Linked DNA regions of Homo sapiens: region 1 is linked to region 2. Evidence: fine-mapped expression QTL. A gene starts in region 2. The other region holds a variant in brackets. All regions are shown on one strand. Distances are from middle to middle. Region 1 overlaps USP38 (ubiquitin specific peptidase 38). Region 2 holds the start of USP38 (ubiquitin specific peptidase 38).

Region 1 (16,748 bases), 50 kb after region 2:
CCTATGCATCTGAACTTTTTTAGTAAGGTAATACTCAGGACTGTTCTGATTCTAACAGATCCCTGTTAATTACAGATTTATTTGTCATATTAGGTCTTTTCTTTCTCCCATATTCCTAACCCGTGTACTAGCTCCAACTGTTGTGAGGTTTGACTCTGAAGACTGAGTAGAGTACTATTGTTGTTTTTCTTTCCTTAGTCAGAGTAATCAGTTTAAATGAAGTTGCTCATTGCTGCTAAGAAGCATTAGGCTTCACTGCTAGCAAAAATGAAAAACTACAAATCTGAGTCTTTCTTTCAAAGATGTTTATTGACATAATTAAAGTAAAAAATTGTTTAGAGATATGCAAAGAAGGAAATATATATGATGTCACACAAGCTCCAGTAAGCTATCCACTAAGCAGGTGCCTGTGCAACTCTGATTTATGGCATTAACATATCAAATTGAAGGAAGGATTCTAGCTCATTTTCCATTCAAGCATCTTCCCACTGCCTCTCTTCCAGCTAAATAATCAGAGAAGCAGGGCAGTATATCCCTGGAGATCCCTGACTTTTATCTCCATACCTTAAATTGTTGGTAGATCCTTTGGATGTAGAGATAAAAATTCATTATGATGCTAGAGGCATTGGGGGGTCCATGCGAAAGGTTCAAACAGCCTATTACATTAATGCACATGTGGAAAGAACAAAAATTTTCAAGCTAAGTCTTAAGTTCAAATCTATAATTTTTTTCTCTTCAGTTCTGTTCTTTGTATGATAATCCTTAAAAAAGTAGTTGTCTTCTTTTCACATACACCTCTTTAAAGCTATCATCTTATAATAAGTGGAATTGGATGCTTATTGTGTGCCCAGCACAGTTTAGGAAAAAAATAATTGGCACTGTTTGTCCAGTTACTGGAGATCTTCATTTTGATGCTTTGTACTTTGTTCCAGGTCTTTAATTCTCAGTCCATCTTTTCCTATGATTGTGTACTTCACATGATACATTCCATATAAAGAGCTCTTTTAAAATGACTATTTCAAAAATACTGTACATTTATATATAGTATTTTTTCTCATAAAAATGTGATAGTTTATATATCCTTTCATCATACGTTTTTTCTAATGAGTTTAGATTTCTGAAACTAAATATTCCTGAAGTAGAGAAGAGTAAGTTATTCACATTTTACAAAAACATACTAGGAAATGCTAACTGGTTATTATTAGCAACTCAGTAACATCAGAGGAGTAAGGTTAAATCTTAGATAATGCAAACCTGTAACTAAGAAGTGCAACAGTAAGGAAATTTGAATTAAAAGTTGCTATCCCCAAAAAACAAATAATTCTAAAATATAAGCTGTTTCATATGTATATTCTTAAGTTTTATCAAACTGTTATGTATCTTCAGTGTTAGCCTAAGTTAATTTTCTTACAGTCCTTTTTTAGAAGTGAACGAACCTTAAAATGAATGGGGGATTAAAAAAAAACTGCTTTAAAAAACTAGCTTGTTTAAAAAAAAGCTTTCCCATATGAAGAAATTTGTATAGAAATAATTTCTAAAGAAATGAGAATCAAGATTTTTATAAAATCAGCAGTCTAGGTTTCACAAATTCAAAAGGATTTATTATGTAAAACCATTAGCCCCACTGTTACATAACCAGTGTGGACTTAACATTAAAAATAGAATCTAAGAAGTCAGCCAAGTGTATTGCCAGCTCTCGTCAGTGTCTGTTATGACCTGCAGTTGTTTTTCTCTTCATGGAGCTCATGTTTTCATGTTTTGCTTGTGTTGTTGACACACACACACACATCCCTTGATTTCAGAGGGTGAAAAATTTAGCCTTTCCTGGCCAGGTCATCAGTTTTTAACCTTGCATTTCATGTTGAAATCACTTGAGCTTTTTAAAAATCATACCATGCCCAACCCTCATCCCAGACCAATTACATTATGTGGAGACTGGGCATCAACGTTTTTTGAAGTTCCTCACATGATTTTAATGTGCCACCTGGGTTGAGAACTGGACTACAAAAGGAATTTTTTCCCCATAGGTCTTTCATTCAAGGGGATTATTAACATATGTCAAGAGTCTACCGTGTGCTGGACACTGGCAGATATTTATGTGTCTTTTTAACTTATACCAGCCCTGTAAGTGGGCTCATACCCATATCCTCCCTTACCCCTTAATGGACAAAGAAAATAAAGATTCTGATTAAGGAACTTGCTCAACATCGTGCAGCTAGTAAAAATCAGAACTAAGATTTTAACCCAAGTCTTCAGAGCTCCAAAGTCAATACTCTAATGGAGCAACAGGACTAAAGCAAATTACATATTAACAAAAGCTTAACAATGAATTTTGTAAAATGAAATATCAGTGTGTTTCCTTTATCCTTTTGCACTCCAAACATGATTCCTTAAGAAAAAAAAAAAAAAGATCTACTTTGTTAAAACCTATATGTGATAATCTAAAGGGTTGAGAAATGTGGTTCTTAAACTCATTTGTTTTACCCGCGTAGTTTCTGTTTGCTTTACTAGGCTTATCTCTTCCATTCTTGCCTTTATGCCCTCTGTCATGCATATTGGACCTTGCATCATTTTTTTTCACACAGCACCATATACTTGCCATCTCGAGACCTTTGCACATTCAGGTCTCAGGATAGCATACCATTCCCCTTACGCTACTTTCTCTTCCCAGCTTTCAGCGGACTAATGACCTCCTACTCTTCAGTATGTTCATATCTTCTCATACTGACTTCCCAAGCTGATTAGTCTCCGCCTTTATCCTGAGGTGTGTATTGTGCTTCTCTTTGAGAAGGCCATGGCTTAGCAATGGGGCTAAATTAACACTGGAGTAAAGGCTAATCCTTTACAGTATAAAGTTTACACCCAACAAAGATTAAAAGTAGGTCTTAAAAGGATCAAATTCTAATGCTGGTTAAATTCTTTAAGTAATTTAACTGCATACAGAACAAATGGCAACCTTTTTAAGGAAATGCAGTATACATACCCAGCATTTAAGAAAGTAAAATTCACAGTATCCAGCATCTGATCAAAAAGTCTGAGGCATTCAAAGAAGGAGAAAAATCCAGAAATTATGGAAAGAAAGGAATTTGCAAAGTAGGAGCTTAAGAGGAATGTAGAAAATCATGAGCACAGTGAAGAGAAAAATGGAAGATCTGAGAGTCAGTTATCCAAGAGAAAATTAAAAGCACCCAGAGGAAAAGAATATGAGGTCAGCAAACAATACAGAGCCCACAGACCAAGTCTATCCTGCGTCCTGCTTTTTCGTAAGTAAAGTTTTATTGGAGCACTGCTATACCTGTAACCTATTGTGTATGGCTGTTTTTACACTACAATGGTAGAGCTGAGTAGTTATGACGGAGACCATATATATTAGTCTGTTTTCATGCTGCTATAAAGAACTGCCTGAGACTGGGTAATTTATAAAGAAGAGGATTAATTGACTCACAGTTCTGCATCGCTTGGGATGCCTCAGGAAACACAGTCATGGCAGAAGGGGAAGCAGGCTTGTATTACAAGGTGGCAGGCAAGAGAGAGCAGGGAAAACTGCCTTATAAAACCATCAGATCTTGTAAGAACTCACTATCCTGAGAACAGTATGAGGGAAATCATCCCCATGATCCAATCACCTCCCATCAGGTTCCTTCCTCAACACCTGGAAATTACAATCCAAGATGAGATTGATTATGGTGTAACCATATCACCATACAGCCTGCAGAGCCTAAAATATTTACTGTGGTACATTTAAAAATTCTGATCCTTGATATAGAGAAACAAAAGACCAGTCATTTTATCAGAATATGAAAGCTAGAGGATGGTGGAATGGCATCTAAAAAGTGCAGAAGGGAAAAAAAGTCAACCTAGTGAATACTCACTATATCCAGTGAAGATTCATTCAACATGAAGGGGAAATAGATATTTTTAGACAAAAGCTGAGAGAATTTTTTTCTTGAATATTTGCACTAAAAGATAGGTTAAAATTCTTCAGGCTGAAGAGAGCATACCAGGTGGAGATTTGGATCTACAAAAAGGAAGGAAGATTTGGAAATGGATTTGGCACCATTGACTCAATTTCCAGAACAAGAAAGCAGGGACAGTTTTGGGAAGCTCAAGACACACTGCCCATGAGCAGCAATTTGGACCTCCTGCTGCATCCACTGTGCATCAAACACACACTGTACAGACAAAGACTCCCAGGAAAAGAAGTATAAACATGGACTAACACAGAGATGGGCAAACTACAGCCTGTGACCCAGCCACCTGTTTATGTAGAATCCAAAGTAAGAATCTTTAACTTACACATAAACTTCTAGAATTGAGTTTAGCAAGTCTCCTAAATACAAAGTTAATATACAAAGTTCAAGGGTATATTTATACACCAGTGACAGGTATTAGAATATGAAATTTTAAAATATTGACAATAATGTAAAAAATCAATTTTTTAGAAATCTAGAAACAGCTTTTTAGAAATAAAAGATGCATAAGACTGCCACACAATACCATAAAACATTATTTAGGAAGTTAAAGAAGACCTAGATAAATTATGGCTTGGAAGACTCAATATTATAAATACCTAATTTGTCCTCAAAATAAATAGCCAACTTTTCCCAGTCTGTAGAATCAATGCAATCCCAATCTGGGAATTCTATTTTGTATTGAGCTGATTCGGAAATGTAAAGGGAAAAAGTCCAAAAATTGTCAAGACTCTTGGAAATGAGGAACAAGGTAGAATGACTTTCTTTACAAGATAAAACTTATAAAGCTAAAATAATTAAGATAAGGGGACTTATCAGAAATACGCCCATACTTACATGCATATGTGATTTATGACAAAAATAATGTGACCATCCTAGTTGTTTGAGACTGAGGCTGTTCCCAAGACATAGAAATTTCAGCTAAAACCAAGAAAGTCCCAGGCAAACTGCAATGACTTGGCCCCTAGACAAAGGTGACACTTCAGTGTGAAAAGGATGGTCTTTTCCATAAATTTTAGTGGTACAGTGGGTAATCATGTAAGATAAAAGAAAACCCTTACCGCACACTATATATAAAAAATGTATTTCAAGTGGATTTTAACTGTAAACTGAAAGGCAAAATAACACATCAAAGAGATTACTTAGAACATCTTCAAAATCTAGGTGTATGGTTAAGATTTCTTAAACAGGACCAAAAAATCCTTAGTCATGAAGGAAAACAGTGATAAAATGGATTACATTAAGATGAAAAGCTTTTCATCAAAAACTCCATTAAGAATAAAATATGGGCCAGGTGCTGCGGCTCACACCTGTAATCCCAACAATTTGGGAGGCCAAGGTGGGAGGATCACTTGAGCCCAGGAGTTCAAGACCAGTCTGGGCAATTTAGTGAGACATCGTCTCTAATTAAAAATAATAATAATAAAATACAAAGCCACAAAATGGTACATCTGTGTAAATCATAAGCGAACGTATAAAGAACTACAAATCAACATAGAAAAGCCATAGAAAAATGAGCAAAAGAGCAGGCACTTCCAAAGAAAATAAATTTCTAATATACAAAAAGGTGCTGAACTTCATTAATCACCAAACCTCAATAATATGCCATTAAATGCTCATAGAATGAATAAACTTTAAAAAAACTGTCAATATCAAACATTGGTGAGGATATAGAAAGTTAATTCTCATATACTACTTACAGGAGCGTGAATTGATAAAAGTACTTTGGAAACTGTTTGGCACTATCTTCTAAAACTGAACATGTGCCTACTGTGTTATCTGGTAACTTCACTGCTAAAGAGAGATGCTACAAAAAATGTGTGCAGAAGGCACATTTTAAATGTTGTGTACACAGAAACAGTTTTAAATGTTCAATGCAGTATTATTCATAGTAGCCTAAAACTTGAAACAACCAAAATATTCATGAAGAAAAGAATGGATAAGTAATCTGTGGATATGCATTTTTCTTGCTGCTTTTAGCAAAATATAAATTCTGATGGACATTCATATATATTAAATTCCTTTACAGCAGCAAAAATGAATAAACTCCAGATACACGTCACAACATTTGAATTCCACAACCATAATACTGAGGGAAACACAAAAGAATGCCCATCTTGTGGCCAGGCGTGGTGGCTCAAGCCTGTAATCCCAGCACTTTGGGAGGCCGAGGTGGGTGGATCACGAAGTCAGGGGTTTGAGACCAGCCTGGCCAACATGGTGAAACCCCGTCTCTACAAAAAATACAAAAATAGCCAGGTGTGGTGGTGTGCACCTGTAATCCCAGCTACTCGGAAGTCTGAGGCAGGAGAATCACTTGAACCTGGGAGGTGGAGGTTGCAGTGAGTCTAGACTGCACCATTGCACTCCAACCTGGGAGACAGAGCAAGACTCCATCTCAAAAAAAAAAAAAACAAAAGAATGCACACTTTTATGATTCTGTTTCTATAAAACAGGCGGGAGCTAATTTGTGGTATGAGAAGTACAGACAATATTAACTTTGGAGAAAGGGAAGGAGAAGTGTTCAGAAAAGATCATGAATAGGGGACTTCTGTGGTGTGATTAATGTTACATTTTTTTACCTGGTTCTTTGTTTACCAGGTTGTGTTGATTTTGTGATTACATGTGGAACTATCTACTTATAATTTTGTGCTTCCCTGTATGTCTTTTGTACTTCAAAAAAAGTTTAAATTTTTAATTATAACTGGCAGCTCTATTGAGTCTAGCCTCCCAGAGTGTTTCATTAGAAAAGGAAAGTAGTTAAGCTGTTGGAAGAGCCTCAGTGATGGATGATGGGCCTAAAACAAGAGAGTTGCAGAAAATTGGACAGGATGAAATGAACTGTTTGTATATATCTAAATTGAGTATCCATTATTTAATTTAAATGTCACCTACTCTGGTGCACTAGCCACATTTTAGATGCTCATGAGCCATGAGGCTCATGGCCGCCATAATGAACAGCACAACTCTAGTGATAAGCCATAATGGTGATAAACTACACTTTATCATTTTATGCCTCCTTCCCATCCTGTCCATTATTTGGGTACCCTTTAAAAATTAAACACATGTGTTGTCTAATTACTGAAATAAATGAAAATGCTACGGAAAAAATCTGGGCACCTATCTTCCTGGAAACTTCAGGCTTAATTCCATTTAGAGAATGGACCGTCTGTGACTTCTGAAAGAAGAACTTACAATATTATTAATGGTTTCCCCTATTGTTAAGACAACAGACCAATAAACTTATTTTTTAATGTTGCTGCTATTGTCCACTTATTAACCAGTCTGTCTGCTTGCTAGACCCCATTAGAACATCTTGTCTTCTTTTTAAGTTTATTTTTATTTCTTGGGTCTTGGTTTATACTCAGTCCTCCACTTCCTACCACTGATCCTAGTTTTTTTGTTTTTGGTTTTTTGGGTTTTTTGGTTTTTGGTTTTGTTTTTTTTTTTTTAGACAGAGTTTTGCTGTTTCACCCAGACTGGAGTGCGGTGGCACGATCTCGGCTCCCTGCAACCTCCATCTCCCAGGCTCAAGCAATTCTCCTGCCTCTGCTTCCCGAGTAGCTGGTACTACAGGGACGTGCCACCATGCCCAGCTAATTTTGTGTATTTTCAGTAGAGACGGGGTTTCACCGTGTTAGCCATAATGTTCTCGATCTCCCGACCTCGTGATCCACCTGCCTTGGCCTCCCAAAGTGCTGGGATTACAGGCGTGAGCCACTGTGCCTGGCTGATCCTAGTTTCTTGAAACTAGGTGAATATTTTTCAGGATGCCTGTCTTTTGGTTGTTATGGTCTTGATATCAAAATCACAATATTTCAGTACAGAGCACTAGCACTGCTGCCCTTTAATTTCTCCACGATAATCTATACTTAGCTAAGTCCAAGACACATGTTTATAAATACTACTTTTCTGTATTTTTGGCAGCTTATATTTCCAGAGAACTTCATTTTTAGTGTGAATGACAGGCTTGACCTTCATTTAGTTCTGTATGGAGCAGTTTGTTCTCAAACCATAGTCTAGTGTTAATGAGAAAAATATTGAAATCGAGGCTCAGAACATGGAAAAATAATTTGCAGTTGAAATCAGTGATACACCTCTGTAGGTTTCTGCTGAATAATTTCTTGAATTGGGTAATTTCCACCCTCTCGGCTTTCAGTAATAGCAGAAGCAACTACGTAAGCAGATTAGCCAATAGACACAAGTTTATTACTTTCCTCACTCATGGCTAAGATGACTGCAAAATGAAAAGTAAAATAATAGTAATAATACAAAACTTGCTTCTCAATCTTCACTGCCTTAGAATA[C/G]AGAAAACACTATAACTACCCTTAAAATCTGGCTTTGGAAAGTGATTGTCCAGAATATTCTATCTTCAACAAGGACTCAGGCTGCCAATATAAACAGGACAGCAATTGTCTGGAACAGTTATTCCATATTCCACTATCCTTTTTGGAACATCATGATTAGGCCATCATGGTTACGCACTTATATAAAGAGCTAAGTTTGTGTTAAATACTAGAGGCAAAAAAATAAATTGGGTGCCATTTGGCAAATTATCTTCCCAGATCTACTGTTGACTCGGAATAAATGCCTTAAACAATTCATATCTCCATTTTCCAGGCAATCCAGCTATCAAGAGTTCACCATGGTGGAGTGGGCCAGGCTGTCCTAGTGCCTATGTCTAATTGTCTATGACAATTAGAAAAAGGCACCAGCCCTATTTGGACAATCAAAAAGAAACGAATATCTCTTGCTCTAAGCTAATGAAGTCAATACCAAGAGGCTTGATGCGAATCAAGACTGTATTTCTTGAGGGCTGAATTTCAACCCCTTTTCAAGCACCATCATCTGGGTGCCCTTTTTCAGGCAAAACTTATACAATGTATACCACTGTTGTGAACGGGCAGTTCTCAAAGATGAGATGCTCAGGAGACAACCTGAGTTTACTTGAAGTTTAAAGAAGACAAATATAATAACTGTGAGCTTTAATGGACCAAAACATAATTTTTAAGTACATAAATGATTCAGTGATTGTCTCAGGGAAACCAGCTACATTTGTAAGTCTGTTATGTAAGTTTGTTTATCATTAAGAAAATATTTCTTAGCATCTACTATGTGCTAGGTACAATGCTGGCTAGCAAGGTAATGAAGTTGAACTTGAACAAAGTGGACACAGCCCCAACCTTTATTTTGTAGCTCAGAGTCTGGCAGGGAAGGGAAATAAACCAGCAATTATAGTCATAGGGGAAATATGAGGTGCTGCACTTACACATGGCAAGTGTAAATATCTAAAGGGCATGGCAAATATCTAAAGGGGTCCTAGCAGCCTAATAATTATATATTTCAGTAGATTTCAAGAGACATCTTGTCATAGTGACTTGATAACTGTTATAGAATTTATGGTCTGTTTTCAATTTATTAATCACAGCTCCTGCTGCCCATGACATTGCAGAAAATTACTTACAACAGGATAGATCCATTCTGGCTATAGTGTGGCAAAAAGTGCATAAGTATTGCTTATCATTTCACAAGGAACCTCCTTCACTGGCGTAGAAAATGAGTATGTACTCCACAGAGGCCTATCTCCCAGGCATCCTTCATCAGTAATCCTGAGCCTGTAATTCCCTCATTAGGACCTCGGTGTTAGGAAGAAAATGACTCAGGAGAGGAGGAAGAGGAAAGGCAATAAGGAGAGCCAACATTTATGGAGTGCTAAATAAACATCCCTATACAGTTATTTATCACTGTCTGCCCCACCCAGAGTGCATTCCATAGGAAGCATCCCACCAGATGCTGCACCTCCTTTCCATTGCTTTTGAATCAGGAAATACAGGCCTCAAAGACAATCCATTCAGCACATGACCAACAAGCCAGGACTTCTTTCTTTGCTCTAAAAGATGAATTTCGACAATCAGGAATCTCTGCAAGTAAAATAAAGAGACATAGAGAATTACCTGTTAGTGGTGGGTGCTGGTTCCAAGTGACTATATAGGCTGGAGATTAGAGAGGCCATTTGAGTAACTTGTAAAATAAGGAAGCTGGTTGACAGAAGGAGGACAAAAAGCAGACCTGTAGAGAGGGGCAGAAAAAAAAAAAAAAAGACAGAGAAGGGCTAATCCTTAGAGACAAACCAGTTCCTCTCCTCCCTGGTTGTCTAATTCTTCCTTGGTTCCCCCATATTTGTATTCCTTAATAAGCCTTTATTTCCTCTGAAGTTATTTCAATGAGTTTCTAATATTTGCACTAAGATAACTTCAACTAAACCAATCAGCTAGGTGGTTTACATTTATAATCTTATCAATACAATCACTCTAACAGGTATCATTATTCCTATTTTACATACCACATAATTGAGGCTAGGAGAAATAAAGTACATTGGCCAAAGTGAAACAGCAATTCTGACAGCTGGTAATGAAAAAAAAAAAAAAACCTAAGGATCATATAAATACATGGAATTGTCTCAGAAAACCACTTTACCTCACTTTTCCCACCTATCCTTTCCTCCACCAAGTTGAGTAGGTAGAGCTACCAATATCCCTTGACACAGGTACGTGATTTAGTCCAGAGAAAACTGGTATATGTTTCTATGTCTTCTTCTCCTTTGTAAGCCAGCATTAAAGTTTGTTTTAATGAAATTTCATCTTAACCAAAATGCCAAGCATTGATTCTCTCAGATCGTATATTTGTAGTGATAACTTTCCTACTGTGTGAAATCATTGAAAACACAAATCCAAGATCGACTAACAACACATGTTGGCCCTAGAGACACCTCAGAGTCTGCTGCAGGCAATACCATTGCTTCAAAACACAATTGCACATAATGGAAAGACAACAGACTTATTATTATGACATCTTAATACACCCTTATGATAGACGGAGGGCACGGGCAGGAGAAAGATTAATTTAGCAAGATAGAGCACTTGTGCAAATAAGACAGAGTCCTAAAGCAAAATATTGGGATACTTCCCTTCAGAAAAAAAAAATGTTTTGAGCCCAGAGTATGCTCTTGACAGGAGACATTTTTAGAATCCAATGATAACCCTGTAATTTTTTAAATTACAATATATGTATTTTCTTTAATTTTGAAATAAAAACCCTGGAAAGAGATCTCTGTCAGATCAAATAGTCTATGATTCCTACAATGGTGGCAAATAATTTCAAATATATATATTGGATTTTTTAAGGCTATAGTATTTGGAAATGGCAGAATAAGATAAGGTATAAAAATGTCAATTTGTGAAGAATAGGCACTAGGCTTTTTAGAGAAAACATATGATCAACTGTGCCTTAATCTATTTAATTACAATACAGAGTTAAAATCCATAAAGGAGGGTTCCCTTTGTTTAGCAATTTTAGTTATTTATTATTATTATTATTATTATTATTATTATTATTATTATTTAAAAATGGAGGCAGGGTTTCACCATGTTGTCCAGACTGGTGTCAAACTCCTAGGCTCAGACAATCGGTCTACTTCACCCTCCCAAAGTGCTGGGATTATAGGCATGAGCCACTGTGCCTGGCCAATTTTAGTTATATTTAAATTCCTGTGGATTTCTTTTGGCATTTATTTACTTCATGGACTCTTTGGCTTTTAGCATGATGCATTTTTGTAACCTCTGTTTAGTTTGGTTGGCTGTTAAGCCTATGACTTTTCAGAGTGGGTTCATTATGTTTATTAAGTATAATCTGGTGAGAAAACCCTTCCAGGGTCTTTCTCACAAAGACAATATGAAGTAGCCAGAAAAATCACAACCATGTTTATGATTTTAATAATAACAACTTGAAAACCAGAACAAAATACAGAACTTAGTCCCAGGGATGACTAAACAAGTGTCATCAATTCATAGCTGCTATCATTTGTTGAATCACCTTTAGTCTTTGGAATTTCATGATTTTAGTTTTCTTGTGAAAGTAAAACAACAAGAGATACATAGCATTAATAATTTGAATAGTAGTAATATATTGCACATAAGAATTATAATCAAAAAGAGAATTTGTATGCCAAAATGAAAAAAAAAAAAGAACTGATTCCACTAGCGAGCCAACTAAAAACATCATGAAGAAAATTAAATCCAGGTTCTTCTTTAGAGATTTCTCATAGCCAAAAAATAATCTAGTATTCAGTCCAAATTGCAGGCAAGTAATAAAAAACTCAAAAACAATGGTCAGGGCTACAGTCTAATAACAGGTGTGCTATACTTTTCTTCTGAAACATTATTTTTCTTTCTTCAGTCCCCCTTTTCTATTAAAGAGAAATCACAGCAACACCAATTTATTCTCAATATACATTTTAGTCTTATTATACTTTGCCTGATTAGTTGCATAAAGTGTAAAAAGAATAGCCATTGCCCACATAGGATCCTTTTTAAGTTGGCTTTGCTGGAATTTTTTCATAAGGGATTTTGGATTAGACTTTTAAGAGCCTCTCAAGTCTAGCAAGCCAAATCAAGGATTCATCATGAGAATATGCGTGTAATGCCTGTACAAATGGGGTGAATTCCTTTTTTCTTAAAGTCCCCCAAGTATCTTGACATTCTTGGCCTGTCAGAAAGTGACATCTTTTTTTGTGTGTGAGACAGGGCCTTGTTCTGTTACCCAGGCTGGGGTGCAGTGGCATGATTATGGCTCACAGCAGCTTCAACCTCCCAGTCTCAAGTTATCCTCCCACCTCAGCCTCCAGAGTAGCTGGGACTTACAGGTGCATGCCACCACGCCCAGCTAATTTTTTTTTTTTTAAGACATGGTCTCACCACATTGCCCAGGCTGGTCTTGAACTCCTGGACTCAAGCCATCCTCCAGTGTCAGTCTCTCCAAGTGCTGGGATTACAGCACTTTGAGCCACTGTGGCTGGCCTTTTTATTTTTTTCTTTTGAGACAGGGTCTCGCTCTGTTGCCCATGCTGGAGTGCAGTGGTGTGATCACAGCCCACAGCAGCCTTAACCTCCCATGCTCAAGTGATCCTCCCACCTCAGCCTCCTAGGTAGCTGGGTCTACAAGTACACACCACCATACCCAGCTAATTTTTAAGCTTTTTTTGGTACAGATAGGGTTTCACTATGTTGCCCAGGTTGGTCTCAAACTCTGAGCTCAAATAATCTGCCTACCTCAGCCTCCCAAACTGCTGGGCTTACAGGCATGAGCCACTGTGCCCAGCCAGAAAGTGACATTCTTTACTTACCCCAAGGTCAGGGACCCTGTAAGAGAGCTGTGCAGACCAGGTACCAGGCCAGTCTTTCTCTTTATATTGGCTTTATAATTTCAATCCCAGTCTTTCAAAGCAGTCTTGCCATGTTTGAAAATATAATATTCCAGCCACAGCCTTGGTAAAATAACCAGTGCTTCTAATATGTCCTATAACAAAAGAAAATAGATTCTATTGAACTTATTCAAATAACTATATTGAAATAAAATAAGAATGCTTATTAATACTTTCCAAATCCTGGAGAATTCAGGTAGAGAGAGAAAGGTAAATGTTTCAATTTTGCTTGCAAAAGAATACCAATTACTGTAAGATACAAATTGCTCAAAAGAAAATAAGTTTTCTTGATTCTGAAAAACAAAATACAAAATGAATCAGCAATATTTCAATGAAAAGGTCATAAAAATCACTTTATTCCCTCATCAGTTCAGTCCCATGTACTTCTTGTTCTGCTTGGTGTCATGTTAGCAATCTTCATGAACACGTCATTTTTTTTTTATTAGAGTTCTGGAAGGTTTTATCTAGTTCAATGATATCATCTCCAAAGTTATCAGAAGCCTGTATTCAAGAGCACTTGTCAGAGTCTTTTCATGAAAGTAATTTTGGACTGTAGTTGGTTGCCAGTGCTTTTAGAGAAGAGTTCAAAACAATAACTATGGATGGCAAAAACCTAAAATAGCCATGGTTAAAATCTGATGAAAGTTCCCAATTGACAAGGAAATTTAGTTATTTCTATTACATGCAGCATTTTCAGATAATAACCAGAATCATAACTGATAACATCACATCAGGGCTATCAGATTTTAATAAGTTTCACATACTCTTGAATATTCACATTAATAACATATCCATACAAATATAACTTTAGAAAAGATTTAACAAAACCAAAATTATGACTACTAGCATTATATTGTTATGAATCTGCATACTTTTGTAACATTGACATCAATAACATACCAATAAATGTAACTGAGAAAATTTGTTATTACTTACCATTTGACAATGCCTCCCATACAATTTACCAAATAAGTCTAATCATTTGCTCTCTCTATAAGATGAGAGATATATTCTTTGAAACTCTCCAGGGGCCCAACTAGATAATCTTAAAATTAAGTTTAAGCCAATAAGACTTAACTTAGGATTTTGATCCTGGGGAAACCTGCCAAAGATGTCAAAAGATTCAAAACAGTTGACCCTAACAGAATCACAGCTTATTGTTAAATAATAATTGTTCATTTAATCAGAGTGAAAATCAAAAGACTTCAGAAGGAATACAAAAAGTTGCATGGGTGTAAAAATCAATCCTTTTAAAGCTTCATTTTCCTAAGTAATCAAAAATCTAACACAGATAATGTGGGAATTATCTTGATAAAAACAAGTTTCAGAAAGGAATAGAGTTCAGAATTAGAAATGGAAACATTGGCCGGGCCCGGTGGCTCACGCCTGTAATCCTAACGCTTTGGGAGGCCAAGGCGGGTGGATCACCTGAGGTCGGTAGTTCGAGACCAGCCTGACCAACATGGAGAAACCCCGTCTCTACTAAAAATACAAAAATTAGCAGGGCATGGTGGCAGGTGCCTGTAATCCCGGCCACTCAGGAGGCTGAGGCAGGAGAATCACTTGAACCTGGGAGGTGGAGGTTGCAGTGAGCCGAGATCACGCCACTACATTCCAACCTGGCTAACAAGAGTGAAACTCCGTCTCAAAAAAAAAAAAAAAAAAAAGGAAAGAAAAGAAATTAAAACCTCTTGCAGTTTTATTAAGATCAAATCAATAATTTAAGAAAATCTCGCTGTTCTAACATAGGAGACCAAAATTTCTAGTTTTGTATTAATGTACTTTTAACATCAAAGCTCAATCTTTAAGAACACATAAATAATTTCCTTTTAATTAAAGGCGACTGAATCACATGCAAAATTTATTTCATGAAGTTTTTTCATGAACCGGCCTGGTGCAGTGGCTCACGCCTGTAATCCCAGCACTTTGGGAGGCCGAGGCGGGTGGATCACAAGGTCAGGAGTTCAAGACCAGCCTGGCCAAGATGGTGAAACCTCGTGTCTACTAAAAATACAAAAATTAGCCAGGCATGGTGGTGGGCGCCTGTAATCCCACCTTCTGAGTTATCTGCAAAATACCCATGTATTTAAGATTCTTACTTAAGTGAACACTTAATGTTCACAGGTTATAAAAATGGCTAAAAGGAATATATTTTGAAATGGTGACTAGCTTTGATAAATATCTCAGTTCGCATAAATAATCTAGCGAAACTGTTAAAAATTAATAGATTAGGTAATTGTAAATGAGATAAATGCCTGTAAATGGAGTTTTCATGTAATTTAAAATCTTAAAGTTATGTTAAATTAAATAATAGATGCTCATTAAATATCTGGGTCATTTCCAATTAAGATTTAAAAAATTATAAGAAAACATGTTTCTGAAAATTATAAAATGGTTCTTATTTATAAAATACTGAGATGTGACAGTTTAAAATTGCTTGCTAAAATTTAAGGTTACTAAGAGTTAAAAATTTTTTTTTTTTTTTTTTTTTTTTTGGGTCACTGCAACCTCCACCTCCTGGGTTTAAGCAATTCTCCTGCCTCAGCCTCCCCAGTAGCTGGAATTATAGGCATGCACTACCACAGTGGACTAATTTTTGTAATTTTAGTGGAGACGGGGTTTCATCGTGTTGCCCAAGCTGGTCTCAAGCTTCTGGCCTCAAGGGAGCTGCCCGCCTCAGCCTCCCAAAGTGTTGAGATTACAGGCATGAGCTACTTCTCGGCCTGGAAATTCTAATTTTTATATAATTTCATATGCAAAATGTGGCCAGAAAAGTAAGGTTTTTTTTAGGAAATTAATTATAAGATGGCACTAAAATGTGGGCTTTATTGAGAAAAAGAATAATTTTATATAATTTGGAGTTTATTTAAAGGTTGATTCAAAATATGGATTTAGGAAAGAAATAGAAACAAGACAGAAAGAAACCAGTAAGTAGGAAAGAGAGATGTAAAGAAATTTATGGATATGACACTATACGTTTGGTTAAAAAAGTGAAAAAGAAAGGAAAAATTTTATATGAAAATAAATCTTGTATGATAAATTTCTGTCTTAACTAAAATGAATGGCTATTGAAGAAAGAGGAAGCACAGGACAGAGCAGAAAGTCCAAGAGTGTCACTGGTGCACTAAGTCATGATAAGGTTCATGAAAAAACTTTTTTTTTTTTTTTGAGATGGAATCTCACTCTTCTAGCCCAGGCTGGAATGCAATGGCACGATCTCAGCTCACTGCAACCTCCGCCTCCTGGGTTCAAGCGATTCTCCTGCCTCGGCCTCCCCAGTAGCTGGAATTATAGGCATGCACTACCACACCGGGCTAATTTTTATAATTTTAGTGGAGACGGGGTTTCATCGTGTTGGCCAGGCTGGTCTCAAACTCCTGGCCTCAAGTGATCTACCCACCTTGGCTTCCTAAAGTGCTGGGATTACAGGCATGAGTCACCACACCCAGCCTATTGTGGTGCATTTGTATGATTATTGTATGCTTTACAAATTTTTATTTTACAATACTTAGTATTTG
Region 2 (15,510 bases):
AAAAATTACCTGGTGGCACTGTAGTTGTGACTATATTAAATTTCCAAAAAAAATAATAACTTTGGAAAGAATTGACTTTGATAATATTGCAGACTGATATTTTTAAAACATCAAGTCAAATCATGCCATCTCTCTGCTTAAAACCCTCCAATGTCTCTCTACCTCACCTGAAGTACAAGCCAAAGTGTTTGCAATAGCCCATGCTATTTGACTTCCGTTCCTAACAGCCTCCCTTGAAATCACTCCAGCCACACCAGCCATAGCAGTTGCTGGTCCTTCTGTGGGACTACTCTTTCCCCCAGATGTCTGCAGGGTCCTTTGGAGCTTTGCTCAAATGTCACCACTCTTAACAAGCATTTCGTGATCATACTACTTAAAACTGTAATTACTATCACCCCCTTCCCTGAATTACTTTTCCTCATAGCACTTTACACCAACTAACACACTATATGTTTTACTTACTTATCATGCATCTTTGGATCATATTGAATGTAAATTCCATATACCCCACAGAGAATTAAACTGCCAACCAGCAATCGAATTTTTTAATTTAAAAAACAATTTAGTATTCTAAGAAACTTTGTTTAGACCAACTCTATCTGAAGCAGATCTTGTAAGTATTATCACTACCTAAATTGCCCTTGCTTATAATATCAAGTCTTAGGTTACTAATCTAATTAAGATGAATTATTTAGCATCAGACGAATGGACGCTCGCAGAGGTTCACCATGCTTGAATTTTAATCCTAGTCTCCTTGCTTCTTCAGCTATGGCTTTTGCCAGCAGTCTAAGATGCCTTCAATATTTAAGTCTCTCAAAGTGAGTTTCTTTTTATACCATCCCTCCAAAGTCTTTAGTGCAATCCACTATACACTGAGAAATTCATAACCTAGTAAAGTTATAGCTGTGTCAATAAGACGCCTAACTTTTCCCCATCTAGTTTCTCAACCGCAATTTAATGTGGGGAGAGGGTTTGCTTAGATTAATGTACTCAAACGTGGTAATGCAGAAGAATCAATTGGGGTCTACTAACAACACAGATTTCTGTGCCCTACCCCAATTAAAATTTTAATTAATAGATCTGGCAACAACTCAAAAAAGTCACTCAATTTTAGGTGTCTCATTGAGAAAAACTAGCTTTATGTCTATTAGGTAATAGCAATAATGCAATCCACAGAGAAAAAATTGGTTTCTGTTATGGACTGAATTTTTTCCTCCTTCCCCCCCAAAAAAATGTATATGTAGAAGCCCTAAGCCTCAATGGGCATTTGAAGATAGAACCTTTAAGGAGGTAACTGAGGTTAAATGAGGTCATAAAGGTGGGGCCTAATCCAATAGAACCCATGTTCTTATAAAAAGAGAAACCAGAGATCCTTCTCTCTCCTGTCATGCACAGAGGAAAGGCCACGTGAAAACACAGCAAGAAGACAGCTATCTGCAATTTAGGAAGAGAGCACTCACCAGAAACTAACGCTACTGGCATCTTGATCTTGGACTTCCAGCCTCCAGAACTGTTAGAAGATAAATTTCTGCTGTTTAAGCCACCCAGTCTATGGTATTTTGTTATGGCAGCCCAAGCTGACTGAGACAATTACTCTCTAGATTATTTTTCATAAAGAATCTGTCACAGCAATTCCAACTGATAGAGGGCCCATGTTGGAATCCTTATTACACAGAATTCAAATAGATATATATATAATCCCTACATTTTAATCGTATTTAATAAATACTAGAACTAAAACCCTTATTTCTAGCAACAATGATTTATTAATAACTTGTTTCCCATTTACATCTAGTTAGATAAGAGCAAGAATTAATGTGTAGTAGGCCTCATAGGCTGCATAGGCCACTGTCTATGCATAGTCATGAATCCATTTGCCTCTTAAAACATAATCCTGGCTGGGCACAGTGGCTCACACCTGTAATCCCAACATTTTGGGAGGCTGAGGCAGGCGGATCACCTGAGGCCAGAATTTCCAAGGCCAGCCTGGCCAAGTTCAAGACCAGCCTGTTGAAACCCTGTCTCTACTAAAAATACAAAAATTAGCCAGGCATTGTGGTGCACGCCTGTAATCTCAGCTACTTGGGAGGCTGAGGCAGGAGAATTTCCTGAACCCAGGAGGCGGAGATTGCAGTGAACTGAGATCATGCCACTTCATTCCAGCCTGGGCAACAGAGCGGGTCTCTGTCTCAAAAATAAATAAATAAATAAAAAACATGATGTCGGAAGTTCCAATCTCTTAGTTTCTAAATATTATGGAGTTTGGGGTTTGTTTCGGTGGGGAAGATCAAACAGGGCAGACTAAAGTCACCTAATTGAAAGTACAGGCCACTTATGGCCAGGGTTGGTTTTTTAAGGGGTGTTGTGTTTTAAACTTTTTTTTCAATTAGAATGTTTATTTAAGATCTTTTCTCTTTTTTGCCATAAGCATTTCTTGCTGTAAATGTCCCTTTTAGGACTGCTTTTGGTGCAAAAAAGAGCCTGCATTGCCAAGTCAATCCTAAGCCAAAACAACAAAGCTGGAGGCATCATGCTACCTGACTTCAAACTATACTACAAGGCTACAGTAACCAAAACAGCATGGTACTGGTACCAAAACAGAGATATAGACCAATGAAACAGAACAGAGTCCTCAGAAATAATGCCACATATCTACAATTATCTGATCTTTGACAAACCTGACAAAAACAAGAAATGGAGAAAGGATTCCCTATTTAATAAATGGTGCTGGGAAAACTGGCTAGCCATATGGAGAAAGTTGAAACTGGATCCCTTCCTTACACCTTATACAAAAATTAATTCAAGATGGATTAAAGACTTAAATGTTTTAAACTTTTTAATTTTGAAATCATTATACAGTCACACGAAGTTGCAAAGATAATACAGAGAAATCCTCTGTACTCTTCACTCAGTTATACCTCAATGTTACCTCTTACATAACTATAGCATAATATCACAATCAGGAAATTGATATTGATACAACATATGTATAATTCCATGCCACTTTACCACACATGGAGTCATGCAACAGTCGCAATCAAGGTACAGAACTATTCTATCACCACAAGAATTACCCTCATTCTACCCCTTTATTAAAAGTTCTACTCATCCCTCTGCCTCTCCCATCTATACCTAGCCCTTGGCAACCACTAATCTGTTCTTCATCTCTAAAATTTCCTCATATTGAGAATGTCGTACAAATGGAATCACATAGTATGTGACTTTTGAGATTAGTTTTCTTCACTTGGCATAAAAATGCCCTTGAAATCCATCCAAGTTGTGTCCATCAATAGTTTCTTTCTTTTTATTGCTAAGTAATATTCCACAGTAAGAATGTACCACAGTTTGTTTAGCCATTCAGCATACTGATGACCATAGTTTGTTTAGCCATTCACCTACTGATGACAATTTTGATTGTTTTTGGTTGTTGGCTATTGCAGATAAAGCTGCTTTGGACATTTGTGTATATGTATTTGTGTGAACATAAGTTTTCATTTCTCTGGAATAAATACCTAGTAGTTCAACAGTTTGATCATATGATAGCTGCATGTTTAATTTTTAAGAAACTTCCAAACAATTCTCCAGAGTGGTTAAACCATTTTGCATTTCCACTTGCAATGTATGAGAAATCAGTTTGTCTGCATCTTTGCCAGCATTAATGTTGTCACCATTTTTTATTTTAGTGGTTCTCTAATAAATGTGTTATAATATCTCATGGTCTTAATTTGCATTTCCCTATTAGCTAGAAATGTTAAACAACTTTCCATTTGTTTGCCATATGTAAATCCTCTTCATTGAAATGTGTCTTGAAATCTTTTGCCCATTTTTAATTGGATTGATTTCTTTACTGTTGATTTTAATTTTTTATTGTGGTAAAATATAACCTAAAATTTACCATTCTTAAGTGTACAGTTCGGTGGCATTAAGTACACACTGTTGTGCAATCATCACCACTATCCATTTACAGAACTTTTCATTCTTTGAAAGAGAAACTCTGTACCTATTAAACAATAACTCCCCATTTATTTTCTCCCTAGCCCCTAGAAACCTCTAATTTGACTATTCCAAGCACCTCATATGAAGTGGATATTTATCCACATGTGAGAGCTGTCTCTGATTTTCCAAATTCTTACAAGGTAAAAACCTTGGCAGTCATCAAATCTTATAGTCTTGGGTGCCACCATCTTGTTTACATTAATTACCAACCTGAGTGGGTAGGGAGGAGTCCCCTGATAGTTTCTACTTTGACCTTCTTCTCTTTGCATAGTAGCCCATCCCAGCCATATTAATTTCCAGAAATGGGACCAGCCCATGTTTTCTTTTTAGATTCATCTCAGAGTTAATTTTAAGGGTTCCTCAGGTGACCCATGTACTTTCCACTGGTCTTTTTCCCACCCTTCCAGGGTCTCTTTTACCAGTCCCTTGACAAGTATAGTGAGTCCACCCCCATTCAGCTGTACATATGGCCATCTCAGGGGTCAGCAGCACTTGACAGGGACCTTCTCAGCTTGGGTGGAGCTTGTCTTCTTTCCAAGTCTTAATCAGCACCTAGTCGCCAGGCTGGAAGTGGCAAACTGCAAACTCAAGAGGAGGAGTTTGAGTCAGAAGTCCTTTTAACCTAAGGGATGACAGGGTGGAGGATAATGACTGTATATAATTTCTTAAGAACTGATCCTTGGTTTCCATAGTAGGAAGATCTGTAGCTCTGCCCAAATACAGGAGCCCATATAATAACTCATAGGGGGACAATCCCAAGTCTTTTCTTGGGACTTCCTAAGGAGTGCTATTGGGAGACATTTTGTCCAAGGCATTTTAGTTTATTAGTTTGGTGAAATGCTTTTTGAGAGTTTCAGTCATTCCTTCTACCTTTCCAGAGGAAGGGGGATGCCAAGGGGTGTAATAATCCCATCTAATTTGTAAACCTTCCATAATTCCCCTTAACACCCGGGAGGTAAATTGGCTGCCATTGTCTGAATCAACGTTTTTCACCAGGCCAAATCTAGGTACAGTCTGTTATAATATTATTTTGACTACATTCCTGGCAGTGGCTGTTGGAAGGGGAAAGGCTTCCACCCAGCTGGAAAGGTAACCTATAATCACCAGTAAATACTTCAGTCTTCCTACTTTGGGTATTTATGTGAAATCTACTTGAATGCTCTGAAATGGTCTTAGTCCAGGAGGTCTTCCTCCCATGAACTGTTTTCTAATCACCTCTTTGTTTATCCTTTGACAAGTTACACAACTTCCACATACTTGTTTAGCGAGGGTATAAATCCCTATCTATCCATAATTCTTAAATATTGCATCACACGGACTCTGGGGTCCCCAGTGACTCCCTTTGGGGAGTAATACAGACATCAGTTCTCTCATCAGGGGTTTACTTATCATTTCTCTCCCATCAGAAAGTACCCATTTCCCATCTTCAGTTTGAGTGACCCCTATCCTGCCTAATTCTTCCTTCTTCTCTCTGGTAAACTGAGGCCTTAATACCACCTTAGGGATGTCTGGTATCAGGCTAAATAGTCTAATTTCTTCCTCCAGGGAGGCTTGCCTAGCAGCTTCATCCACAAACCTGTTTCCTACAGCTTCTATAGTGTTCCCGTTCTGATGATCATTTACATGAACTATGGCTACCTCTGCTGGAAGCAGGAGACTTTCTAAAACCTGTTTGACCAGTTCCCCGTGTACCAATTCTTTTCCCTTGCTATTTATTAGGCCCCGCTCTGTCCAGATTTTTCCAAAAGTGTGTACCACCCCATAGGCACATTTAGAATCAGTATATATATTTCCTTCCTGGCCTTCAAGGAGCTTTAGGGCCTGGTCAAGAGCATGTAATTCACATTTTTGGGCCGACCAGCCATTAGGTAATCTACCTTTCTCACATAATGAGTGTTTATTTCCATCAAAGACAGCATAACCATTAAGTCCCTTGCCATCTATCACTCCGGATGACCCATCCACAAACAGTCTAATCCATCACGTAGTGGAGCTTCCCTAAGGTCTGGTCTAACTTTGGCTTGGTATTCTATGGTATCTAAGCAGTTATGATCTGATGTCTCTTTGTTCTGGTCTCCTTTCCATAGGACACTGGCTGGATTCAGGCAAGTATCTGGTGTTACAACCAAATAATCTTTTTCTAGTAATATGGCTTCATATTTTAGAATCTGAGAATCCACTAACCATCTCCCAGCTTTCTGATTTAATATATTCCTGACCTGGTGTGGGGTGTTTACTATTAGGGCCCCACCAAACATTAGCTTTCGACTCTCCTCTACCAGCAGGGCTGTCGCAGCTACTGCTTGCACACATTCAGATCACCCCTGAGAGACAGGATCGAGAAGCTTGGAGACAAAAGCAACAGGTTGCCTCTTCCCTCCCCAGGTTTGAGTGAGCACCCCAAGGGCCATGCCCCGGTCTACTGTTACAAACAGATAGAATGGTTTCTCTAAAGATGGGAGGGCCAGGACCAGGACTGTAATGAGGGCCTGCTTTAGCTCTTTCACTGCCTTAATTTCATCTAGGGACCATTACAAGGGATTGGGCTCCTCTTCTAGTAACTTGAGATACAGAATTTTGTCTTTTAAGCATATGAGTCAATCCATAACCTACTGTAGCCAGTTAAACCTAAAAATTTTTGGAGTTTTCTCTTTGTCTTAGGCAAAGGCAAACCCACTATTCCCAATATTCTGAGTTTATTATCCACTTCCCTTCACCAATCAGGTGTCCTAAATATTTAACTTCTTTTTCTACAAACTGCAATTTGTTCTTAGAGACTCGCAATCCCCTTTCTCAAAGAAAATAAGGCAAGATTATGGTGGTTTCTGATCACTCGGCCTTCCTTTTGCCAGATATTAAAAGTTCATCTACATATTGTAACAACTGGGTTCCCCTGGAAGGTTGGAATTCCTCCAGGACTAAGATTTGACCAAATAAGTTTGGGGCTTCTGTGAAACCCTGTAGCAGTACAGTCCAGTGGTACTGTTGTTTTCTCCCAGTTATAGAATTTTCTCATTTCTTTTTTGCCTATGAACATCCAGTTACTCCAGCACCATTTGTTGAAAACACCATCCTTCCTTCACTGAATGGCTTTTGAATCTCTGTCAAAAATCAGTTTGGTGTATTTGTGTGGGTCTAGGTTATTGTTGCCCATTTCACTGATCTATGTGTCTCTCTGCCATTACCATACTGTCTTAATTACCCTGGCATACAATGAGTATTATTTTTGGGTAGTGATATGGTTTGGCTCTGTCCCTACCCAAATCTTATCTTGAATTGCAATGCCCATAATCCCCACGTGTTGAAGGAAGAAACAGGTGGATATAATTGAATCATGGGGGCAGGTTCCCCCTTCCTGTTCTCGTGATATAAGTTCTCACGAGATCTGATGATTTTATAACAGGGTTCCCCCTTAGCTCAGCTCTCGTTCTTCTCCTTCCTGCTGCCATGTGAAAGGATATGTTTGCTTCCCCTTCCACCATGATTTTAAGTTTCCTGAGGCCTCCCCAGCCATGCTGAACTGTGTTTATAAACCTTTCCTTTATAAATTACCCAGTCTCAGATACGTCTTTATTAGCAGCATAAGAACAAACACAGGTAAAATGATCCCTCTCACTTAATTCCTCCTTTTCAGAATTGTTGAAGCTACTCTGATTTGTTTTTCCAAATACATTTTAGAATAATCTTGCCTGTATATGAAGAAGAAAAAAAAAACCTGCCTGGAGTTTTAATAGGAATTGTATTAAACCTGCATATCGATTTAGAGATCATTAACATCTACACTATGGTGAGTCCTCCAATCCATGTATATGGTCATTTATTTAGATCTTCGATTTCTTTCATCAGTGTTTTGTTGTTTTCAGCATGAGTCCTGTACATCCACTGTCAGATTTACACCTACATAGTTTTTATTTTGAGCAATTATCAATGGTATATTTTTAATTTTGGTTTCCATGTGTTCATTGCTAGTACATAAAAGTACAACTGATTTTTGTCTATTATCTTATATTCTGAAACCCTGCTGAGTTTGTTTTTTAGTTCTAGAAATTACTGTGTAGACTCCTTACGACTTTTTCTAAACCATGTTTTTCATTTCATTTTTTAAAAGTTCATTCATTCAAAAAATAGTTAGATTGAACTGGGCATGGTGGCTCACGTAATCCCAGCACCTTGGGATGCTGAGATGGGAGGATCATTTGTGTCAGGAGTTCAAGACCAGCCTGGCCAACATGGTGAAACCCCATCTCTACTAAAAATACAAAAATTAGCCAGGTGTGGTGGTGGGTGCCTATAATCCCAGCTACTCAGGAGGCTGAGGAAGAAGAATTGCTTGAACCCAGGAAGTGGAGATTGCAGTGAGCTGAGACTGCAGTGAGCTGAGATCACACCACTGCACTCCAGCCTGGGCAACAGAGTGAGAGACTTCATCTCACAGACAAAAAAAATTGATAGATTGTTTACCCTAGTGTTCTAACTGCTAGATATAGAAGTAACTAATAAAATTAAGGGGTTCTTTTTGACCTCATGAAGCTTAGATTCTAGAGAACAGAAAAAGGCTGTAAACATATAATAAATGAGAACAGTAGGAAAAGACACAAGAGCAACTTGATGGAGGGCCTTAAAGTCAACAGTAGCCATTTGAATTTTAAGAGGAGAAGCACTGGAAGATTTAAAATAGGGTAGTGAGGCTGCTCTGCCTATGAAGTAGCCAATGGTATATTTTTAATTTTTAATTGTCTTTTATTCCTTTACTTTCTTAATAAACTTGCTTTCACTTTGCACTGTGAAAAAAATTAAATGAAATAGTGTCGTAAGATTAGCTTGATGTCCATTTTAAGTCATTAAAACAAAAACCATATCAAAGTGGTTGGTGTGTTTCTTTACAGTCTTTTTTTCTTTACAACTTAAAAAACATATGAATATAAATTTCATAAAGTCAGGGATTATTTGTAATTACTTCATATGATGGTTTATTTATCACAGTCCTCTCTAATCTATACAATCAGTTTGCTTTTGATTCTATTAGGTGATATAAATTTCCTAAGAGAAAACTAACCTCACAATAATGTTATTGCAGTTGGCCAACTCTAACCACTGCTTTTGGAACTGCCTTTTCTCTTTGCTTATCACAAACATAAACACATACACACACTTTTCATCTAATAGTATGATGGAAATAATAGAGACTCTAGAGTCAGACTTGATTATTTTTTTTAACCTCCTTTGGCTTCAATACCTTATCTATAAAATGTAGCTATTAACATCTATTTCCAAAACCCCGTTTTGAGAACTAAGGATAAAGTGTAATATATTGAGTTCCAGGCACACAGAGGTTGCTAAATAAACAATCACTCCTTATCCTGTGCTTTTTCTCTTTCATCCCCATCACTCAGCTTCCATTCTCAGATCTAACATATTTGTAAAACCATGTAGTTGGCAATTGAGGCCTTAGACTAAATCTTTATATGAAATTTTAAAGCCCATTACAATAGCACCCACTAATCCAATGATTAGTGGCATGATTCACTGCAAAAAAATCTTCCACAGACTTCTGAAAATATTTTAAAATGTTAAAAAGGAACATGGTATTATTATAGAACTTTTAGTTATGCTATAAAATAAATTTAAAGTTGGCCACTTTCAATTGAAATCTTATAAAAGAGCATATTACATACATTTTTTAACCAGTGGCAAAAGAAGGAAATAAGCGTTGAATATCTTGGTATAAAAACCTAGTATTTCATTTCATGCATCTATCATTCAAGAGGTATTTTAAAAATACAGAGTCATGGTGCTTTTGGAAGTCTAATATTATGACATGTAATTTATATGGACTAATAGCACTATGTTCTCTCAGACATCTTATTTTGTAATATTCAATTTTTCAAGACCTAATATTAACAGAAAGAAGAAAATGTTATAGACAATTCAAAGTAATCTGTCAAGTTTTAAATTTACCAATATTTTTTTCTTGTCTACTTTGGAATAATCACTTCGCTGGTACTATTCAGCAATCTTCATTCGTCCTGTTAGTTTCTTAGCACAAAGATTAATTCCAAATTTCCTCCACTCCACCTCAAATCCACGATCCTTCTTAATACTTAATTCCTTCTTAATATTTTATTTTCTATATTACCTTTGTCTTCCACTGTGGCATTATTCCCAGTAAAGACAAACATCTGTGTACCTTCACCTCCTATTGGAAAAATCATTCCTGTCTCTAGCATGACTGATAGATTAATTACCTCAATTCTCTTTTATCTTCCGTATCTTCCTACGAGTCAACTTGGTCTTAAGTTCCCTTTTACTCAAGCTCCTGTCTCCTCTAAACTGCTCTTCTTAAGACTACCATAATCGACGTGTGAATATATTAGTGTAATCGTGTTTGTAACTTGGTAAAAAAACAAAACACTATTTAGCAAACTGAAGTAACAGAATTTTGTTCATTTTTCTACGGGACATTTTAAATGACCTATTTCTTTAAAGTTTTGTCTGTATTACAGGGCCTTAATGTCTAGTTTCACAACTATATTAACCAAGCCTGAAGCAGGCTACAGTTAGGCAATATTTTCCAATATAAAGACCTCTGATTAAATTCTTACTGTGAATCTTCGGAATTTGGCATGAAACAGAACAAGCATGATTGCACCTGTTCTTCCCTATTGTAAACCATCTTCGGTGTCAACATATACAATAAGTTTTGTGGTATTTCCACCTGGTTTTCTATTTTCAAAGTACCCTTGTATGACACAGGTATAAAAATATTTTGATTCTAATCTGCCATTTTCCTTACTCTCACACTTTTTTGGACGGCTTATAATTTTCGATATGGTACAAAGCTCACTAACTGGTTCTTTGCTAGAGGCCTGCTACTGATACTGATGGTCGCTAAATGCTAGGTACGCCGCCAGTATTGCTCTTACTTCAATACCGACATCGCAGGATAAAGGCAGTCACATTTAGGCGCGCAAGCGCAATTCTTGATTAATGAGCCAAGGCAGACTTCTCAATCCGAGTTTTGAGTTTTCCTTACTTTTCCCCCAAATGCTCTTTTCCTCGGATTTCACATCGATAGCACTTATTCGAGTTTTCACGAGTAACCTGACGCAGGCGGAACCGACGAAGACTAGCCGGCAAGAATCCTACAGTCGCAGCCATCTGCGCAGCGTCCGCCGGGGACGCTCCGCGCGGAAGACCGCCTGTGACTCGACACACTCTCCAGTGACGCGGCCGTCGCCGCACCTGCGCGGCGGGGCGGGAAGGAGACTCCCAGCGCCGGGGGGAAGGGAGTCTACGACTCGGGAGGGAGGTGGGGGAGCAGGGAGGGAGAGAGGGAACAAGGGAGAAGGAGAGAGGCGGACAGGCGGAGGGGCGGAGGGGCAGAGGGGCGGAGGGGCGGTCCTTCCGGAGGTTCTTAGGTCCTTCACTTCCTGTTTGCCGGCACTTCAAAATCCGGGTCAAAGGGTGTCGCTTCGGTCTCTTCTCCCCGGCTGATCCCAGCACTCTCCGTGACAGCGCCTCCTGACTCAGCCCAGGACCGGCTTCTTCTCACGACCTGCTGGAGACTGGACGCCCACACCTGACCCGGAACTCGGAGGCGTGCTTCCTCCACCCGCCGGCTAGCAGCCCCGGGCCCTGAGCTCCCGCCGACGCCGCTGGGGGGCCCGACAGGCCCCTCGGCGCTGATGCTGAGTGGGATCGAGGGCCCGGGGCGGCGGCGGAGTACGGGCCTCTGGCGCCTTAGGCCAGCCGCAGGTGTCGGTTCTTAGGCTCTCCAGGCTCGCTAGCTCCCGCCCCGGCTTGGATGGGTCTCCCTGCGCCATAAATGTGGCTGCTGAGGCGGCGGTGGCCGTGGCCCGTCGCGCTGCTGCTGCGGCGCTCCAAGTTCATCTCCGCCCCGGGGCTCTCCTGCCCCACCTCGGGGCTGCCGCCACCCGCTCCTTATCCCCTGGCCCTGGCCTTGCAGCGTGGCGACAATGGACAAGATCCTGGAGGGCCTTGTGAGTTCCTCGCATCCCCTGCCCCTCAAGCGGGTGATTGTGCGGAAGGTGGTGGAATCGGCGGAGCACTGGCTAGACGAGGCGCAGTGCGAGGCCATGTTTGACCTGACGACCCGGCTCATCCTGGAGGGCCAGGACCCTTTCCAGCGGCAGGTGGGGCACCAGGTGCTGGAGGCCTACGCACGATACCACCGGCCAGAGTTCGAGTCCTTCTTCAACAAGACCTTCGTGTTGGGCCTCCTTCATCAGGGCTACCACTCTCTGGACAGGAAGGATGTAGCCATCCTGGACTACATTCACAACGGCCTGAAGCTGATTATGAGCTGTCCGTCGGTGCTGGATCTCTTTAGCCTCCTGCAGGTAGAGGTGTTACGGATGGTGTGTGAGAGGCCGGAGCCGCAGCTCTGTGCCCGACTGAGCGACCTTCTGACCGACTTTGTGCAATGCATCCCCAAGGGGAAATTGTCCATCACGTTCTGTCAACAGCTGGTTCGAACGATAGGCCATTTCCAGTGCGTGTCCACCCAGGAAAGAGAGCTGCGGGAATATGTCTCCCAGGTGACAAAAGTGAGTAACTTGCTGCAGAACATCTGGAAGGCCGAGCCTGCCACACTACTGCCTTCCCTGCAAGAAGTTTTTGCAAGCATCTCTTCCACAGGTAAGGGTCATTATCTTTCAGAATATCTCATAAAAAATCAGTATATGTCTCTCTTGCACACACACATTCACACCATGTTTTCCTCCTGCCCTAAAAACATTCTTAAGCGAGAGCAAATCCTAATACCTCATCCCAAATTTATTCACATTCACTACCTTATTCAGGACGTCACATCGTACTTTAAAAACAGGCAGCGTTCCCATTTTAAAGGTTGAGAACGTCCAGGTCTAAGACCTTTGGCACTAAACAAGTTGCTTAATTACCCAGCCTCTGCTCAAGTTATTTGGAATGCTTTGAGGATGACAGCTACTGCAGAAAGCTTCCATTCATTAGTGACTAATGGTAGCATGATGTTTACCATAGTATTTATTGTACGTGTCTCTAATTTTGTAATGAGTTTTTCCCCCATTTTTGTATTTCCTCATTTTTGAATTAATGGATTGTGCAGTTTGTTTTATTACTGGATTATCCCAGATAACTATGAAGTTTTTAAATAGTGACATTTTTTGTCTACAGTATCTAGTAGACAAAGGAGGAATACAGATAGAATGAGGGAAGGAAGAGTACGAGGATTTAAATATTTGTTTTTGTGCCCATGAACTGCATTCTCAGAAAGCAGAGAAGGGTCACATGATACTTGCCTAGAAAATGCTTTCTCGCCGAGGAATTTTACCAGTACCTCTACCTTCGTTGTTCTGTCTTGGACCTTTCAGGTCTGAATAGATTCAAAATCATGTTCATTTCCGCTCTACTTGGTACAAGCATTCTCCTTCATTTATAACACCAGTGGGGACTGTGTGGCTGTTCAAATTGAACTTGTGAGGGATGTGTCCTCTTCTTATCTTAAGAACCAGAAGTAAAGGTGGAGTTTTAACAAACGTTCTGTGTTCTGATGAATTTAATATATTTACGAAAGAATTACAAACGATGTATTTGCAGTATCTGAGTTGGTTTGTTTTTTTTTCTTATTGTAATTTTACTTCTATTGCCTGTGTTGTCATAACTGTTAGGTTCCTCCCAAATTTTTTGAACTGTAGCAGTAAAGGTACTTGTCTTGGATTTGCTTAATTTGTATACAGTTTAAGCAAAATCTCCACAAAAGTCACCTTAATTTCTACTTTAAGAGATTTTTTAAAAATCTTCCTTAGAGCAATGTAATGATGAATAGTTTTAAGTTATTTTGGAGGGTCTGAAGTGGGAGTTGAAATGATACTTAAGTGCCCCCAAAAGTCACCTTCATTTCTACTTTAAGAGATTTTTTCAAAATCTTCCTTAGAGGGATGTAATGATCAATAAGTTTAAAGTTATTTTGGAGGGTCTGAAGTGGAAGTTGAAATGATACTTTATGTTTCTTTATATTTCCTTTCTGATTAGTGATTTACAAGTTAATATTTTAGCTCAACAATAACTCGATAAATTATGAAAAATTAAAGTAACTTATGGACTAACCATATCAATATATTTCAGTATTCTGTCTATAGTATGAGTGATCATTGCTGTTCACTCCTAATCTTTCATTCCTGTAATTTAACATTCCTTGTAAATTAAGAGTCTACCCATGAGGGTGTAGCATAATAATCCTTCCTAGTTAACACCTTTGCTGCAATGACTTTTTTTTTTTGTAAAGTGTTGTTCTTTTTAAATACTTGAACCTACTTGCCATGTTCCCTTTTCTTTTTAATTGAAAAAACAGATGCATCATTTGAACCTTCTGTAGCATTGGCAAGCCTTGTGCAGCATATTCCTCTTCAGATGATTACAGTTCTCATCAGGAGCCTTACTACGGATCCAAATGTAAAAGATGCAAGTATGACCCAAGCCCTTTGCAGGTACTTCTTCATGACACTATTAATGGTAATTGTAGATTTGGGGAAGAGGAAGTATTTTGTATTTTGTGAGTAATGAAAAACTTACGAATGTTTAAAACTAAAATCATGGAATGACATATGTAAAGATTCTCCAAATAGATTGGAATTGTTTATAGCGTTGACAGGCATCCCAATAATTCACAAATCTATTTTCAATTCAACTTTTTTTAATTACCAAAATATACACACATATACACATATTATACACTCAGATGTTGATTGGATTATCAGTATACAGTATTTCACTGCCCATTATTGTTTCCTGCAACCTATTTCTTTCTTCTGCGTTTTTTTTTCTTTCTTCCTTAGTAAGTATATACTTTACTTTCTCTTTCAACCAGGCTCAATGTGTAATACACTCTTTGCCTTTGCCTGTTTGAATTTTTTTTCTTTCTCAGTTTTAAATAGATGATTTGGCAAGATACAGAATTCTAATTTGATAGCCATTTTCTCTTAGCATTTTAAAAATAATACTGTATTACCTTTGGGCATCTGTTGTTGCTCGTGGGAAGTCAGCTGTCAATCTGACTGTCATTCCTTTGTGAGTAGTCAGCTTGTCTGGAAACTTTTATGTTCTCTTTATCCTTGATGTTCTGTAATTTTATTCTTGCATTTCTAGGTATAATCTTAATATTATTTGCCCTTCTTAGCACTTTGGCACTTTTATTCAGTCATTCATTCATTTATTCAAACCACACTTACTGAGTACTTACCATGAGTGCCAGGCAGTGTTCAAAATGTCCTCAAACAAACTGATAAAAATATCTGCCTTTATAGGCTTGCATTCTAGTTGGGGAGGCAGACAGTAATTTAATAACACACTTCACTGATTCCAACATGTCTTCTAATTTCAAAGATGTTTAAATGTAGAAATGCCTAGTCATTCATGTCCTAGTTAAATTGGCACGGCTTTTCTTGCCTTAGTGGTATATAAGCTAATTATGCATCTTAAAATTGGTTTTGTTTTAGATTTGATTAAATATGATAA

Evidence for each region.
Region 1: its variant is fine-mapped to the expression of USP38 in blood mononuclear cells (TOPMed, PIP 0.99).

What each region holds. Positions count from the first base shown.
Region 1 is chr4:143,222,754-143,239,501 of GRCh38, forward strand. USP38 (ubiquitin specific peptidase 38) reads left to right here. Exons shown (of 10, transcript NM_032557.6): 10 at 1-1,121. Among named protein-coding and RNA genes, the nearest start is that of USP38, 46 kb to the left of the region's middle. The variant C/G (reference allele first, on the strand shown) is at 8,279.
Region 2 is chr4:143,173,479-143,188,988 of GRCh38, forward strand. USP38 (ubiquitin specific peptidase 38) reads left to right here and starts at 11,439. Exons shown (of 10, transcript NM_032557.6): 1 at 11,439-12,654; 2 at 14,348-14,483. The coding sequence starts at 11,973. It overlaps USP38-DT (USP38 divergent transcript), which reads right to left and starts at 11,383. Exons shown (of 4, transcript NR_185979.1): 1 at 11,030-11,383. RefSeq lists enhancers at 10,489-11,374, 11,375-12,259 and silencers at 11,311-11,360, 11,581-11,830.